Linked DNA regions of Homo sapiens. The protein of the gene in region 1 interacts with the protein of each later gene in a pairwise test. Each region holds a gene or a part of one and is shown in the gene's direction. Other genes may lie near its edges. The genes, in order: PELI1, RIMS4 and INPP5J.

The links.
Region 2: the proteins of PELI1 (region 1) and RIMS4 interact in binary tests that used the Homo sapiens proteins (3 or more experiments, as listed by UniProt).
Region 3: the proteins of PELI1 (region 1) and INPP5J interact in binary tests that used the Homo sapiens proteins (3 or more experiments, as listed by UniProt).

What each region holds. Positions count from the first base shown.
Region 1 is NC_000002.12:64,142,725-64,146,470, reverse strand, and holds the start of PELI1 (E3 ubiquitin-protein ligase pellino homolog 1), read left to right. Parts: upstream 1-2,050; 5' UTR 2,051-2,390; intron 2,391-2,944; exon of another isoform or gene 2,945-3,153; intron 3,154-3,746. UniProt on the Homo sapiens protein: E3 ubiquitin ligase catalyzing the covalent attachment of ubiquitin moieties onto substrate proteins. Involved in the TLR and IL-1 signaling pathways via interaction with the complex containing IRAK kinases and TRAF6.
Region 2 is NC_000020.11:44,808,501-44,812,246, reverse strand, and holds the start of RIMS4 (regulating synaptic membrane exocytosis protein 4), read left to right. Parts: upstream 1-1,700; 5' UTR 1,701-1,975; coding exon 1,976-2,072; intron 2,073-3,746. UniProt on the Homo sapiens protein: Regulates synaptic membrane exocytosis.
Region 3 is NC_000022.11:31,120,970-31,124,715, forward strand, and holds the start of INPP5J (phosphatidylinositol 4,5-bisphosphate 5-phosphatase A), read left to right. Parts: upstream 1-1,996; 5' UTR 1,997-2,045; coding exon 2,046-2,150; intron 2,151-2,926; exon of another isoform or gene 2,927-3,036; intron 3,037-3,172; exon of another isoform or gene 3,173-3,294; intron 3,295-3,746. UniProt on the Homo sapiens protein: Inositol 5-phosphatase, which converts inositol 1,4,5-trisphosphate to inositol 1,4-bisphosphate.

The sequences.
Region 1 (3,746 bases):
TGCCTTTAATGACATCTCTGATTTGTTGAATCAGTCATCCCTATAGACTGCCTTTTTCCTGAACTTTCTAGCTAGATGGTTCAATAAATCTCCTTTATTGGTTAAGCCAGTTAGAGCTGGGTTTTCTGCTGCTTTCAACCACAAGCATCATAATTCATAACTTTACTTTTCCCTTCACCCCCAAACCTAGGCAATTAGTCACTATGTTCTATATTCTATCCCCTGAATAGTGTCTGATTACCCTCAGTTTTCTCTTCTGCCACTGCCTTACCTTAGTTCAGTCTCTCATGGTTTTTTCCCCTGTAATACTGTAACAGGTCCCATACATACCACACTCCATAGAGTGATCTTTCTAAAATGCCTATCTTATCAAAATTCCATCTGCTTACAATCCTTGTGTGGCTTCCCATTGTTTCCAGGAAAAGGTTCATGTTCCTTAGCATATTGTGCAAGATTCTTCATTACCTAAGCTGTCTCCCTTACCTTTTTCAGTGTCTCCTCTTGCCACTCCCCCAACTCCATTCTACTGCCAGCAATGCAACTATTTGCTGAACCAAAATACGTTTGGGTCTCACACCTTTAGGTATTTGTGCTTGATGCTCTCCCCAACACCACCCCCAATGCTCTCACCCACCTCTCTCTTCCTCCTCCCCTACCAAAATACACAAACATGTTAATTCCTAGTTATCTCAAGTGATCTTTGAAGCATTTCCTGATTTTGCCCACATCTGTGGGTAGCTTTGCATTTTCCTATTGTAGTACTTCTCAAATTAAGTCTATTTACCTGTCTCCTCCTTTGCATAGTAAGCACTCTGAAAATAAGAATGTTTCTTTTACATTTTTGTATCTCTATTTCTGGGGCTCAAAACAGTGCCTAGCACAAGTAGACACTCAACAAGCATTTTTTGAATGAGTGTATAATTATATAGTCTGTAGATATAAGGATTTCTGATCTTGAGACTCTCTGAAAGCCTTGCTCCAAAAGTGTGTCTGATTCCTAAGCATTAATCTTTTTCTTCCAGGGTGTGGGGTTCTAGGTAGGTGGAGAAGGAAAACAAAAGCGCTCAGGACGCGTTGCCTTTAGCTCTCCGGAGAGCCAGTAATGTGTCCTGCCTTTCTCCACCCTCCTCCCTACCACCTTTCCACACCTGGGTGCCCAAGATGGGTGTAGACTTAGCTGACCAGCCCAACAACATACTCATACCTTGGTTCAGACTTCTCTTATTACCAAACTAAAGTTGGCCAATACACATAAACAATTTTCAACTTGTCTTTTGAACGTATACTTTATGAAATTTGTATGTCTTAAAAATTGTAGGCCTTAAAATGAACGAACCCGGATTCTTTTATAGTAATCAAGTAAAATATAGGGGTCTTAATTCTGTACTTTGCCTTTGCTAATCTTAAAGTTAGATGTGACTAACTGAGCAAAGTAATTAATTACGGGACTTTGATAGTGGTGATATTCCTAAGTTTTATAACCTAATTGTTCAATTACTGGAAACAACTACATTTCGACAAGTCTTAGGTAAAGAAAATTGAATTTAGCCGGAGAAGATTCAATTGAGGGAAGTGAGGGACAGAGGTATTTGTGATTTAGGGTTTGTGGAAGATAAATTACGCAGCAGGGAAGACTGAAATATGGAGAGAAAGTCAGACCTCACTGGGTACTTATGACTGGTAAGGCTAGGAGTTGGAGGTGGAGAAAAGTAGGAAGGACCGTCTAAGGGTTGGATCCCCAACAACACCATAATACAAGACCGTCCTTGTTCAGCCAACAGCAGCACTGAACACGTTCGCTAAGTGTGTCGGTGACCATGGTAACGGTGGGAGGGGGCGGTCCAAACCTCGCCCTCGAGCATGCTCAGTGCAGAGCGAGCCTGGTAGGGTGCTGGACAACAATGAATCCCTTTTTTCTTCAACCGGAGAACTACAATTCCCAAGAGCCTTCTCGGTGCGGCGACACCGCCTTCCGCTGTGGCCCTGCCCGGTCCCCTCCCTCAGGCCCCGCCCCCCGGCTAGACCCCTCCCCTCCTTGCGAGTGTATGTCAGTGACCCAGAGGCGGTGTGAGGCGGAGGGACCGTCGGGGGGCGCCGCCGCCGCCTCCACTAGCAGCAGCGGCAGCAGCCCTAGTCCCGCGGTGCGGTCGAATTGGTCCCCAGCCCTCCGGGAGCGCACCACAAAGCAGCCCCAACGCCTCTCCCTGCGTCCGCGGCTCCTCAGCGCTCGGCTCCGTGGTCAACTTCCCCTCGCTGGGCTCGGCTGGCGGGCGCGGAGGGCAGCGGCGGAACGGCGGGCTGTCTGCTCGCGCTCCCCGCGCACAACACTTCACCCTCTCGCCTCGGGTCTCGGGGGCCGCTCTGGGATCCCGGCCACCAGCAATTGTCCGGTAAGTGTGACCGCGGGGCGCCGCGGGATGGATGGCGGCGGGGCCGCCGAGGGGCGCGGGGAGGGCGGGCGCGCAACTTCCTCGGCGGCTTCCCCGGCGGCCAGCAGCCGGCTCTCCCCGCCCGCCTGCGCGCCCCCGCTGCGGCGGGGAGCGGAGTTTGCGGCGCCTGCATCCCGCGCCCTGGCTCGAGGAAGCGCCTTTGTCAGGAACCGGCCCTACGCGGCCTCCCCCTCCGCCCGGGAGCGGGGCGCGCGGCGGCCAACTCCGAGCCCCGCGCCTGGCTGGCCGCGCGCTCCGGCTGCGAGAGGGGAGCTCTGCGGGTGGCGGGGAGGAGAGGGAAATGGGAGAAACAAAAGGGGCGGTGGGTTTCCCTTTTGTTTGTGCGGATCTGATAACTTCTTTTCCTCCCTTACATAACGCAGACTTCAAGTTAGTCATTCTTTTTATTGTTATGATTGTTGTCATCATCTCTGCGCGTCTTTCACATTTCCTTTCATCTTTGGATCTCAGAGCATTTTAAACACGCTAATTAATTTCACCCCCGGGTCCCCTAGGAAACAAGTTAATACGCCCGTTTCCCTAAGTGGGTAAACTGAGGTCGTGAAAAGCTCTCAAATTGATGGATACGCTTGATCTTCTACCGCGCCTCGTGTCTGAGTATATGAAAGCGTTTATGAGGAAGAACCCGTTCTCCAAAGCCCCGTGGAAAAGTTAAAGATGCTCATTTTACTTACAGGTTAACTGAAGTCCAAAAGATGTCTAGGTAATTGTTACGTAGTTCAAACCATAATTCTTCTTACATAGTGTTTGAATCTTAAAACCTCTAAAGACTTAGTGAAAAATGCTCCGAGTAGGGAAATTAATGTAAATCATAAACTCACGTCACCATCTACTTTTATTTTTGTACGTGCAGGTCTGTTAGAGGCAAGAGAGCAAGAAGGGGACAGAGGGCAGAGGTTTTTTAAAAATGTACATTTAACAGATTTTAATCACTACACACAAGGAAATGTGCCTTGGTTTTAACAGCACCAACAATATTCCTGTCGTTTAGTCATCAAACAGTATATCAACAAATGTTATTGAGAACTTTATTCATAAGGTGCTGGTTGTGCTAAAAACTGAAGCTTTATATATAAGAAAAGGTCATCTGTTTCGGTTCACAGGCTCTTTACTTTTTCTTACTCTGCAAAATGTTACTTTGTTTTCATTGCACATGATCTTTTGTTTCAGAAATGGCATTGTCCTTTACTGTGTCGAATATGTATTACTCTTACACTTAAGGATAAATGAATTTATTATTAAGTTTTCATAATAGGGTGAATTTAAAATATTTTAATTGTGGTAAAGGTTCACTTT
Region 2 (3,746 bases), on another chromosome or scaffold:
GAAACTGGCCTTGAAGGTGGAAGGGGCCAGGTGAAAGGACCAGAAAGCCACTTCTAGGAGCTGAGGTTGACTTCTGGCTGACAGCCAGCAAGGAAACAGGAACCTCAGTCCTGCAACCACAAGGAACTGAATCCTGCCAACAACCTGAATGATCTTGGAAGCGGATTCTTCTCCAGAGCCTGCAGAGAAGAGCCCAGTCTGGCCAATACTTTGTGAGGCCCTAAGCAGAGAACCCAGCTCAGGCTGCCCAGACTTCTGACCTACAGGATTGTAAATCACTAGATTGGTGTTTTTAAGCTGCTTCATTTGTTATGCAGCAATAGAAAACAAACACCTGTGTTATCTTACAGGCAGTTCACAACCATCCAAAATGGAAGGCTCCTGTCCCCATTGTACAGATGAGGAACAGGACCCATGGGATAAAGAGTTTTGCCATAGGCCACCCAGAAAGACAGCACCACAGCTGAGATTCAAACTCTGGGCTGTCTCTTTCTGAGGCCTGAACTGTTTCCATGTCGCCAGATGGCTTCATAAAGAGGTGTGCGAGCAGCTGAGAAGGTTGTTTGACATCTGGGGCCTGATTAGGTGGGCAGGGACCCTCACGTCCCAGGTCACATGCAGGGAATGGAACACGGGTTTCCGATTCGCTCGTCTCTGTCCTGGGGCTGTGAGTGTCTGAGCCCGTGTGTGTCTGAGGACTGCGGGTCGCCGAGGGTGATAATGGGAGAGTCTGTGAGTGTGAGCCTGCCAAGTGTGTCTCAGTGTACCTGAGTCTGAGGGTGTCAGTCAATCCGTCGGGATGCACCCACACTGGGAGGGATGGAGTCTGTGTGGCTGTGTCTTGGCGTGTGTGTGCTACTCTAGTGTGTCTGAGGGTGAAGGTGTGTGCATCTGGCCGTGTCAGTCAGAGTGTTTGACAGTGCTGAGATGATCACAGGGGGAGGCGACACAGAGTGTGTGCTGGGTCTGGGCTTGTGTGTTCATCTGAGTGTATGAATGTGTGTATGAATTCTGGGGTGTCTTTGGTAAGTGTGAATGCATGAGACTGTGTATGCCTACCTGAACTTCGTGGGGTTTTGTGGCATCTGAGAGTCTCCCCGTGAGGGAGGCCGGGCACCAGGGATGTCCTGCCTACCTCCCTGAGTGTGTTTGCAGGTCTCTGCGTGAGTCTGCGTGTGTCCGTGGACGTGTCTGTCCCCGCATCTGTGAGGGGGTGGGTCTGTGGGTGTATCTGTCCGGGTGTCTGCGGGGCATGTTGCAGAGTGAATGTGTAGGTGTGGGTGCCTGTTTGAGCTTCTCTGTGGGTGCAGGTGTGAAGCCGAGGGTCTCTGTGTGGGAGGCCGAGTGCCGACCCGCCTGGGCGGGACCCTTTGAGCGCATCCCCTCCGAGCGCGCCAGTGTCTCTGGGAGAGGCCTGTCTGGGTGAGGGACTGGACGCCGGCCTCTCCGCAAGTCGGCCGGCTGAGGGTGGGGGCCGAGGCGGGGTCGGGAACAGCCCTCGGACCAGGGCCCAGACAACCTCGCCCGGCGCCTGCCTCCCCGCGCGCACCTGCCGGGCCCGGGGGCTGCTAGAAGAGGCCGCAGCCCGCGCCCTCCGGGCTCCCACGCCCCGCAGCGGCGCCCCCTCCCCCGGCGGCACGGATTGGCTGCGGCGCCGCTCCAAGCCCGCCTCGCGCTGCCGGCGGGGGGCGCCGCGGACCAGAGCGCGCTGCGCCGCCACCGCCGCCGCCACCGCCGCCGCCGCCGCCGCCGCCAGCAGCACAGCGCGCCTCGGGCTCCGCGCGCCGCCAGCTCCTGGCCCGCCCGCCGGCCCCGCCGCGCCCGCCAGCCCCGCAGCGGAGCCTCGGCCCGGCCCCGGGCCGCCGCCACCACGCCGCGCGCCGTACTCCGCGTCAAGAATGGGGCGGCCAAGCTGCCCAAGCCGCCCGCCGCCGCCGCCGCCGCCGCGGCCGAGGCGCCCGGCGCCGGCGCGGGCATGGAGCGCTCGCAGAGCCGCCTCAGTCTGTCCGCCTCCTTCGAGGCGCTCGCCATCTACTTCCCGTGCATGAACTCCTTCGACGACGAGGACGCAGGTAAGCGCGCGGCCCGCCCCCCAGACCCCCGGGGTGTCCCGGGATCCAGGTCCGGTAGCCCCCTCCCCGACCCGTGCGCCCTCCTCCCCACCCCCAATCCCCTGGGAAGGCGCCCCCAGGGTCTCCTTCCGCACCCACGGGACCCCAGGGTCTCCAGGATGCGCTACCTTCTGGCCTTCTCCCCCAGGGACCCCGAGATTGTCTGCATTCACCTTTCCCGCAGGTGGGCCCTTTGGGTCGCCAGGACCCATCTCCCTCCTCACCCGCGCCTATTGGAGGCCCCTTGCCTCGTCCCTGGAGCCGACCTGCCACCCTCCCTGAGTCTCCTGAATGTGCCCACTCTTCAAGCCCTGGGCTTTGGCCGTCCCACCCCTGGGGCTCCGACGCGCCCCCCGCCATTGGAGGTGGCGCGCAGACCTTACCTCTCCATCTTTGTCTTGGCCACATCCAGAGGATCCCTGCCCAAGACCCCTGCCCGGCGCCCCAGGCCTTGAGCGCCCCCATTTATCTCTCCTCTCCTTCCCTCATGGGCTGGGGCTCCAGACTCCTGCTTCTTATACGCCTGGGGCAGACGGAGGGGAACCGGCCAGGTGACGGCCTTTCCTCCCCTCTCTTCCCGGAGAGAGGTGTAGGGCGGCGCCAACTCTACACTTGTCCGCCCGCTGGTGTGTGCCCCTGACCTCAGGTGCTCTTGTCCCTGGAGTCGCCTTTCTTGGTGGGCTGAAGCCGGCCACCAGCCAGCGGCTTGAACCTCCTCCTCCCAGGCCTGCGCACAACCTCAGCCAGAGCGAGGGGTGGGGAGCTGTAGGGAAACCTACTCTTTAGGGCCCTGGGACCCGGCAGAAGGAACATGAGAGCTCCGGATTTGGTTCTGGGGTGAGGAAGGGAATCCACCAACAGGTGGGGTAGCTAGAGGGCTTGGGTGAGAGTTCCCCAAAGAATGCCAGATTGGGAATCGGAATCAGGTTCCAGTCTTCATTCTCTACTTCTTAGCTGTGACCTTGGGCAAGTCATGCCACCTCTGAGCCTGGATTTCCTCATCTCTGAAATGGGGATCATCGTATCGATGCAAAGCTCTGTATGGTGTGAGGGTGGAGTTCAGTGTTTTATAAGGTGAAAATCCGAGAGTCTTTGAATTCAATGGGGGAACAAAACAGAGGAGTGTATGTGCTGGAGGAGTGTATGTGCTTGAGGAGCAAAATGGTTTCATGGGCACTTTCAAGTCTCTGAGGAAAACATGGACTATCTCTCCCGAAGTGCATATATGCACCATCCACAAAATGTAGCCTACGGTTTTAGGAAGTTCCTGGGCCCAGGTTTAGACTTAGTCTTTGGGGACCCTTGTCTGATCAACCTGGCCACCAAGGTTCCATCATGGGATGAAGTGGTGGGCATGTCTTCCTGCCCTTTCTCCAGAAGAATTTGTTGACTGGTGAATGAATGGGGATAGGTGAGGCAGATCCCCAATAGACCTGTCTTTCTATTGACCTGGAGGTGGGGATGGGGGTAAGGGTAAAGATGATTACTGCAGAGACATTTTACCATTTTTATAATCACCATTTTACAGAAAAAAACAACTGAGGCTCAGAGGTTTAACTTCTGCCTTCATGTAGCTGAGGGAGGTTGTATTATTATTCTGGACAAGGCAAGGTGGGAAGAAGTAGGGGGCTCCCC
Region 3 (3,746 bases), on another chromosome or scaffold:
CATTCCCTCTAGGATTGCATGAAAAGCTGGGTAGTCTTGGGGGCTCCCATTTTCTTTTTCTTTTTTCTTTTCTTTCTTTCTTTTTTTTTTTTTTTTTGAGACAGGGCCTCTCTCTGTCACCCAGGCTGGAGTGCAGTGGTACGATCTTGGCTCATTGCAACCTCCACCTCCACCTCCCAGGTTCAAACAATTCTCCTGTCTCAGCCTCCCAAGTCGCTGAGACTACAGGCATGTACCACCACACCCGGCTCATTTTTATATTTTTAGTGGAGATGGGGTTTCGCCATGTTGACCAGGCTGGTCTCGAACTCCTGACCTCAGGTGATCTGCCCACCTCAGCCTCCCAAAGTGCTGGGATTACCCGCACTTTGCCAGTACTCCCCCAGCCCGGGGGCTCCCATTTTCTTATTTGTAAAACAGGAGACAGAGGATAAGACAGGATGAGTTCGAATCTTCCTTTTTCTGGTAACCTGAGCATCACCACCAGGTCTACTCTCACATCCTCCCTGACTGTCACCTCCAACTCCAACACTACCTCTTTCATTGACACAACACCATCATCAGTATTGGTATCATCATCACCTCTACCTTTGCCATCACCATCACCTCCACCACCTTCACCACAACCACTGCTAGCCCCCTACTTCCATCATCACAGTTACATACATCATCACATCCATCACCACAGTCGCCTTCCCCGTCACCACTGTCACCATCTCCACTATCGCTGTCCAAAGACCTTTCTACCCCAACACTCTAATATGGCCTGAGTCTCTGCCCCTGCAAATTCCAGCAGAGATGCTGGCCTGAGAATACAGACTAGACCTACTGACAGTCAAGCAGAGGTAGGAAGTGCCTTCAGGAGAGGAAAGTGAGGCATCTGCCTTCATGTAGGAGACTGCACAGGCCCATGCAGATGCTCCATGTTGGTTAACAGGGAGCTCTGCACACACAACTCTGAACACTTTCTGCCTAAAGTGGGTGGGATCACTCCTCTCTAAGCCATGAGAAACAGATCCCACAGCCATCCCAGCCCAATCTGACCCTCATCACCCATTCACTCTTCTAATTCATTTATTCATTCAACAAACACTCCCGTAGGCCTGTTGGGGACCATGTCCTGGGCTGGGTCCTGGCTGTAGCAATTCTCAGGCCTGTTTGTAACTCTCTTGTCAGTCTGTTACCCCACTGCTGGGCCCTTCTCCACCCAAGTTCCCTTCCCCCAGATAGCTCGAAGGGCTTGTGCTCATCCTAGGTCACTAAGTTTTCTCACTGAAACACAGGAGACCTTCTCAGTTCACCAGGTGACCTTGAGCAAGTTCCCCTCCCAAACCACACCCAGTGAATACTGGAGAGAAGAAAGCTGACAGAAGCCGGGCTGGGTTAGGCCTGGCTGTGGGGACATCTGAGGGCAGCTAGGTGTCTGCAGAAGAGGAGGGGCTGGTGCTGAGGCCTGAGATGGGAAAAGACTGCAGTGGCTGGAGCCTGAGTGTCTGGTTCTGGGTTGGGAAGAATAGAGCCTGGGACTGGCAGTAGGAGTGGAGAGGGTGGCACCAAGACCTGAAAATGGGGCAAGGGTGGGGGCCGGGGCAAGCTCTGAGCTGGCAGGGAGCCAGGAAGGTCACAGGATCAGGGCAAGAACTCAGTTGTCTCTGAGGCCCTGGAGAGGGTGCAGACCTCTGAACCACCTGTCCTACCTTAAGGCAGGTGTGTTAATGCCCCTCCCTGGAGCAAAGGGCTGACCAGGCCTACGGCAGAAAGGTGAAGGTAGACAGACAGCCTCCTTCCTGCTGCCAGTTGGGACCTGGGCCAGGCAGATGGGTACACTCTCCCCTCCCCACTCCATGGCTGTTCCAGCCTCAGCAGCCAGTTTGAAGGATTCCCAGGGGGTAGCCACCTTGCTTCGGCCTCTTCCAGGCTGGGAAGTGGGAGCCTGTGCCTTTAAATTCTCAGCAGGTTGAAATGGCTGATGACATCACTGGTTCCCGGGAGCGGTAGAGCTGGAGCCGGAGCCAAGGGAGTCCAGGCTGCCGGGGGCTGCAGACATGGAGGGCCAGAGCAGCAGGGGCAGCAGGAGGCCAGGGACCCGGGCTGGCCTGGGTTCCCTGCCCATGCCCCAGGGTGTTGCCCAAACTGGGGCACCCTCCAAGGTAAGACCCCTGAGACCCAGTGCCCCCCGCTTTCCTGATCCCTGGTTCCACACACCCCCCCCACATACACTGCAGGCTCCCTGGTGCTCCTGACTGAGGGGCTGGTACTTTCCTCTGCTCAGCGAGCAGGGGCTAGGTGAAGAGAGCACCCTGGGGGCTGAGGGGCAGTGACAGGATGCCCGGAGACAGATGAAGTTAGCCATCTCCAGGAGCCCTTGGGAGAGTCCTGGACTGGGTATCAGAGGACCCAGCTGTGCTCCACCTTTGCTGTGTGACCTTGGCCAAGTTGCTTTTCCTCTCTGAGCCAATGCAAAATGAGGGGGCTTGTCGCTGAAGACTAAAACTGTGACATCTGGGATGGCTAAGTTGTTAGTACTGGAGGCGGTGTGATAGTTGGGGGGAAGCCGGCACACAGTGTGACACTTGGAGCCAAGGAGGGTGCCTAAAATGCCACCTCAAAGAACTGAGTTTGAGAAGGGAGGTGGAGATGGAGTTTTAGGTACTCTGAACTGAGAAGGATACGGGACAGAAACAGAAGTGCGTCTCCAGAGGCAGGGCCTCCCTGCGCCCTGTTACCCTACCTAGGGCCATCCTGGGGCAAGTATAGACATTCTTCTGCCCTCCTTGGTGAAGGACACTTTATCCTGTCTTCTGGAGACAGGGGACATCAGAGAGAATAGATGGGGAAGGAGGATAGGTCTCTACAGGACTCCGTGACTCCCCACCCCTCCCACCTGCCGGACATAAATGGGATACCTGCTTGCCTGTCCTTTCAGGTAGGGGAGAAAGTGGAGGATGTAAGAGGGCACAACCTGGGCACAGAGAGATGTGACACCAGGATCAACTTAGAATCCTGGACTTGCTCTGAATGCTAGATTCACACTTGGTGAGGATGGACTATTCAACGGGGCTAGATGGAATTCTAGCAAATGTTGGGCTCATAAATGCAGACAATGGGAGATGAAGATTCCCCAGAATATAATGTGGCCAGGAACCCTAGACCCCATCCCTTCATTTTACAGACAGAGAAACTGAGGCGCTGGGCAGAGAGGTACTTGCCTAAGGTCACACAGAGCTGGGCTTTGAATCTACACAGCCAGTCTCAGCTCCCAGCTCTTGCTCCTGAGTGGAGCTCTGGGAATGGGTAAGAGAACAGAGAGGGCTGTAACCAAGGGATTTGGATGTTTAGGGGGCGGTGGGGAACTGAGGGTTTCTGGGCATTATGAAGGAAGGGAGAGGTATTTAACAAGCTGCACCTGTAGGTCTGTATCTTGACAATAGAAAAAGAAAAGAAACAGGCTGTCCCCAGTGTGCCCAGACCTGGGATGTCAGGTCAGTAGCCGTGGCTGGGGGAGCTTCAGGGACTGCAGTGGGAGGGTTGCCCAGGGAAGCTGCCCCGAATGGGCAGGGTGTGGGTGCCAGCCAGGAAGGCAAGGCAAGTCCTCAGGTTTAGGTTCACACTCTGCCTCATTTGAGTCAGGGTCTGAGTTTCCCCATCTGTGAAAGAGGTTTCAGACTTAAAGGAGGGGTTAGGGTTTTGTGTCCTATCTCCTCCAAGACAGAAGTTGACCTGCAGCAGAATAGATTGAAGTGAGA